2 separate regions of the Homo sapiens genome follow, and region 1 is linked to region 2. Evidence: fine-mapped expression QTL. A gene starts in region 2. The other region holds a variant in brackets. All regions are shown on one strand. Distances are between the middles of the regions.

What was found. PIP is the estimated chance that this variant, and not a neighbour inherited with it, causes the effect.
Region 1: its variant is fine-mapped to the expression of CCDC152 in whole blood (INTERVAL, PIP above 0.99).

Annotation. Positions count from the first base shown.
Region 1 is chr5:42,903,447-42,906,356 of GRCh38, forward strand. No RefSeq gene overlaps it. Among named protein-coding and RNA genes, the nearest start is that of FLJ32255, 88 kb to the right of the region's middle. The variant C/T (reference allele first, on the strand shown) is at 1,663.
Region 2 is chr5:42,755,376-42,758,285 of GRCh38, forward strand. CCDC152 (coiled-coil domain containing 152) reads left to right here and starts at 1,443. Exons shown (of 9, transcript NM_001134848.2): 1 at 1,443-1,510. RefSeq lists enhancers at 1,498-1,999, 2,000-2,499.

The sequences.
Region 1 (2,910 bases), 150 kb after region 2:
ACGAGGTCAGGAGTTCAAGACCAGCCTGACCAACATGGTGAAACCCTATCTCTACTAAAAATACAAAAATTAGCCGGGGGTGGTGGCACGCACCTGGAGTCTCAGCTACTCGGGAGGCTGAGGCAGAAGAATCGCTTGAACCCGAGAGGCAGAGGTTGCAGTGAGCCAAGATCATGCGACCGCACTCCAGCCTGAGTGACAGAGCAGGACTCCATCTCAAACACCCACCCACAGACACACACACACACACACACTCAGTACTAGCCTGAGTCATTTACCTCTTTTCCTAGTTCAGCTACATGGCTGGCCTCATCACAAGGCTGAACCCATGGAGTTCTGTCCACCAACCCTGGAAGAACAGTCTTGGAGGTAGGCAGGTCCAGAGTGCTTGTCACATGCCACCAGGACAGGACCAAGAACAAACCTGTGCCTGGGCACTAGATCACTTGCTGTGCTGAACACCACTCCTGCCAATGCCCTTTGCTCTGTGAGGATGTAAAATCAGGTGTGTGTGGGCTGCTGTTTTGGGTTTCCAGCAGGCTCAGAGCTGTTCTCAGACTCAAGAGGGACCCAATCGCCATCAAAACCCACATGTCCAGAAGTCAGTGGCTGAAACCACAAAGTAGCTCCAGTCGCTTTAAGACAAGATGGATTAGGCCAGGCATGGTGGCTCGCGCCTGTAATCCCAGCACTTTGGAAGGCTGAGGCAAATGGGTCACCTGAGGTCAGGAGTTCGAGACCAGCCAGGTCAACATGGTGAGCCCCGTCTCTACTAAAAATACAAAATTAGCCAGGCATGGTGGTGCATGCCTGTAATCCAAGCTACTTGAGAGGCTAAGGCAGGAGACTCACTTGAACCTGGGAGGCGGAGGTTGCAGTGAGCCGAGATCGCGCCATTGGCCTCCAACCTGGCAACAAGAGCGAAACTCCCTCTCGGAAAAAAAAAAAAAGATGGATTCTGCCAATAGCAGGGTTCAGTGGGTCCCAAACCAGCCAGGAGATGCCAGCGCTTGCAGAGCTGAACAGACACATACCCAGGACGTCTCCTTAAACTGCTCACAATCAAGGCTTGAAATACTGAAGAACCCTGAAAGGGAAAAAAAACTTTTCTTGCTCATTACTCACAGTGAGATAGGAGTTTGGCAGGACTAGTTTCTCAAGACAAACAGGATGCTAGGTCCCCAAGACACAGGTCACAGTACCCGGTACAAGATTCCTTAAAAAAAATTTAAAAATTGTTTTAAAAAAGCCCAAACCAGCTAGAAGGAAAATGGCATAAAAGCTACCTCTGGTTACCTTCATTGCTCGTTATATGCTAATTATTATGCATTGGCATGCTAAAAGACTACCACCAGAGCAATGACTGTTTATAAGTGCCATGGCAATCCCCAAGAGTTACTCTGTATCTTCTGTAAGGTAGATAAACCCCCGGTCCACAAGCTCCTGCCTCTTTCCCAGATAACTAAAGAAATAGTCGACCCCTCATTTAGCATATAATCAAGAAATAGCCATAAAATAGCCAGCTAGCTGCCCTGTCCCTTGGTGCTACCCTGACTACGGGGGTAGCCTTCTTTTTGTTTCCTTAATACACTTGCTTTCACATTACTCTTTTGGCTTGCTCTTGAATTCTTTCTGGTACAAGCAAAGTATCCACTTGGCTTC[C/T]CTGGCTGAATGCCAATTCTGGGGGTATCCTTGCATCAACAGCACCACTGCCTTCAACCAATGCCCTGGAAGGAGCTCCTCACACCCCAGTGGGGACCCTCATGATGTTATTGTAAACTTGCTTGGGACTCTGCCTTCTAGATAGAGGCAACAGGAGCAAGAAGTTTCTATGTTGGAGATCATTCCTTGTTTAGTTCTTCCTCTCCAAAGTACTAGGAGCAAGAAGTCTATGATGGAGATCATTCCTTATTTAGTTCTTCTTCTCCAAAGTACCTCAAAGATTTCCAAATTATAAAAACTATCTTTGTGTAATCAAGAATATGCTAAGGAACTTTACTTCTAGATAGACTCAGAATTCATGGTAGATGGTAAATTTTGTTATATGTATTTTACCACAATAAAAATAAATAGAAAATAAAAGACAAGAAGGAAATGAAAGAATTGAGTGACTACCACTGCCCTGCTTCTCACTAACATCCCAAGTTGTCTTTGAGGACACACCTCTCCTCAAGCTTTTCTCTGCCTGGAGAACAAGATTGCAGTCTCTGCTCCAGGACTAGCAATGTGGTTTGGGGCAATAATAAACTATTAACCAGGGTTCCTCAAAAGAGCTTTCCCTCCACAGGTTAAGGAGTACCTTTTCTTTTTATCACTTAAACCACCCTATCACAGATTGAGTTTCGTCTAAGATGTTAGGGTTTTATGTTAATACCAGTAATTCCATCTTCTGTTACAATTTGCTTCTAGAATTAATATCACCACTATGCTTCCTATGATCTGATTAGGACCAGGCACTTGGCCAGAAAAGTGTAAAAACTCAAAAGCTGATGTCTCCTGCTGTGAGACTGGATGAAACACCTTTTCCCTTGTGTTCAGGAGCCCTTGGATTACACAATTCCATATTGCTTTCAGATTGGCCAGCCCAGAGGAAATCTTAGCAGATAATCTAACCTGGGTGTTGCACACAGAGGCCACCCTGAGGGAGCCAAAGCCAGGGCTGCATTCATAGTCCCTTTATCCCCTAGACCTTCAAAAGGTTTCAAATTGAAATCACGATCATGTCATCTAAGATAACAATTAATTTCTCTTTACAATTAATTGCCATTCAGGGATGTTGTGGTTTGAATATTTGTCCCTTCTGAAACTCATGTTGAAACTTAATCCCCAATGTAGCAATATTGAGAGGTAGGGCCTTTAAGCAGTGATTGGGTCTTGAGGGCTCTGCCCGTTTGATGTCTTAATCCATTT
Region 2 (2,910 bases):
CAATTCAGTCTTAACAAATGCCACAGAAAGCTAGCATGTTCCATAGAGTAAGGAAAGGTAGATCACAACTGATTGATACGATCAGTGAATGACTCATGGAGAAGGTAGCATTTTAGCATTTAGGGTCTTAAAATGGGCTTGTTTCAAAAGTTATTATGACATGAGTTACATGGAACATTTTATATTTGCTAATTGGGTAGAACCCGCAATTCAGCAGGTCATTTTCAATATTTCTATGTGTTGCTACTAATGTTAGGGAAAGCTTATTTGAGCAGCAGAGTGAAGACTACAACCCCCATTTTCCACTTTAACCTAATTTTCTTGCCATTATGCCACACTACCTTTCAACTAGTAAAGTATGGGTTATCATATTACTGTTTATATTTTTTCACTTGCCAAATTTTGGAGTCTATCGAAAAATCACATTAACAAAAATAAACCTCCCATCTCCCACTCAGAAAAAAAAAAAAAAGCAGATGAGCAAAGTTGGCAGTGGATTCGCTTTCAAACTATTACTGAACAACATTCAAAAATTCTAATAATTAACATTTCTGAACACTTACTTTAAGCAAGGATCTCCATTAAGCACCTTATAAATGCATCACTTCATTTAATCATCACAACCGTCCTAAGAGGCAGGCTTCTTTTTTTTTTTTTTGACTGAGTCTTGCTGCTGCGGGTCTCGGCTGGAATGCAATGGTGCGATCTCCGCTCACTGCAACCTCCGCCTCCCGGGTTCCAGCAATTCTCCTGCCTCAGCCTCCCAAGTAGGTAAGATTACAGGAGCCCGCCACCACGCCTGGCTAATTTTTGTATTTTTAGTAGAGACGGGGTTTCACCATGTTGGCCAGGCTGGTCTCCAACTCCTGACCTCAGGTGATCCACCCCCCTCGGCCTCCCAAAGTGCTGGGATTACAGGCGTGAGCCACAGCGCCCGGCAGAGGCAGGCATTATAATTAATCTCTTATACAGATGAAGATGCTTAGGTGCATGAAATTAAGAACTTACCCACTATCACCCACGGAAAAAGAGAAGAGTTGGGGTTTGAATCCACGCAAGAGCCCACGCCCTTAATCATTAAGCTACCAAGATATAACTCTGTAGATGGGAAACCATATCTATTAACTGGCTCTGGAATTTTAAAAGGCAATTTTATAAGTTACAAAAATAGATATGGATAATTATTTATTCAATGGAGCTGACTCACAATTCAGAACACCCAATGTGATTTATTCTTTGGTTGGGGAAACAATTATTGATCCGGTGTTGATTCATGTTCTGGAAACCACATGAAAATACCTAAGCAGCCGCAGATGCTGAGCGGAGCTGGGCCAAGTTGGTAAGAACTGCTGGTGGTAGGAGCTCCAGCATAGCGCACAGGGCGGGCCCAGAGAAAGGCGGGCCCATTGTTGGGGGATTCGGCTTCCGGAGGAGGGGACAGCATTCAGGGGTGTACCAGGCCCCAGAGGCAGCGGAAAGGGAGACTGTGGGGAACTAGGAGCAACAGCAGGTACACTCCAAATTCTATTGACGGTTCGAAATTCCCGCTTTCTCCATAGAGATTCCTTTCTTCATATTTCATTACAGTGCTCTGGGTCCATTACAGGCTTTTCTTTTCAGACACCTCTCTCACATCCGCGGGTCCTCGGCCCCCATCCTTTATTTTTGCTAGGCCGCTAAGGACGCTAGAAAGCGATTCGAAACTCCCGCTTTTTCCATAGAGATGCTTTTCTTCTTATCTCCTTACAGTGCTCTGGGTCCATACAGGTTTTTGTCTCAGGCACTTCTCTCACATCCGCGGGTCCTCGGCCCCCATCCTTTATTTCTGCTAGGTCCCTAAGGACACTAGGATGACGGAGAGGGAGCCAGGGGACCCAGGCTTCAGGACTGAGAGTGAATTCTTGAGGGGAGGTGAGGAGGAAAGAGGAGGGACCAGAGCGTGGGGCAGGCGAGCGGCGAAGGACCAACTGTGTGGGGTAGGGGAGAGGACGAGCCCCGGGACTCAAGCCAGCAGACAGGAGGACCCAAAAGGAAACGGAACTGTCACGCTCCTGTGGGGATGGTTGAAGCCAGCAGGCAAGAAGACAAAGAAGGAAATGGGACTTTCACTTGCCTGTGGGGACGGTTGAAGCTGAGCCTTGAAGGTCACAAATCAGTCTCTGCGGCTCACTAAGGAATTTGACAAGCACTGAATCACCAGCTTGACACCGAATTTCACAGGGCAAGACCATATTCACTGAAAGGATCTTGACCTAAGAAATCAGAAGAGCAGGCAATGAAGATACCTAGAAATGAATTGCCTGGCTCTGCCATTATGGCAAAAGGGATATCATGCAACGATAGCAAATGGAATATTAGTGATGGTTTTACAAGGAAATAACAGGGTCTTCTTTGGGGGAAGGAGTTGAGAGAAAATCAAGCTCAAATTTAAATGCATTTATTTCAAGAGCCAGATTCTGAGACAAAACCCTAGTAAAACCTTTTTTATTTAAAAGGTTAGGTACCAAAAAAAAAAGGTGGGGGTGGAGGGAGTTTCCATTAACTACTTCAGATTACTATGTAGCACTATTAAAGAATAACAGTACTATCAAACAGCAATTATTTTTAATTTTACTCCAAAAGGAATTTTACTGTATCATGGGAGGCTATTAACAAATATTTTTCTGCTGTAAGGATCAAGTTTTAACTATTTAAGGGATTTTATATGTAGTTGTGCTTGCATATGTCATACATAAGATAATAATTCGAGATAATAATTCAAGAAACAAAATATACAGCCAAAAATCTGAGATTTAAAAACCATTAATAATTGCTAATGCAAAATATTTCAAAAGAAGAAAATGAGATATCTTGATGAAATAACATATTGTCAAGCAATATCTGTTTTGGTTAACTTCCTTTTAAACAATA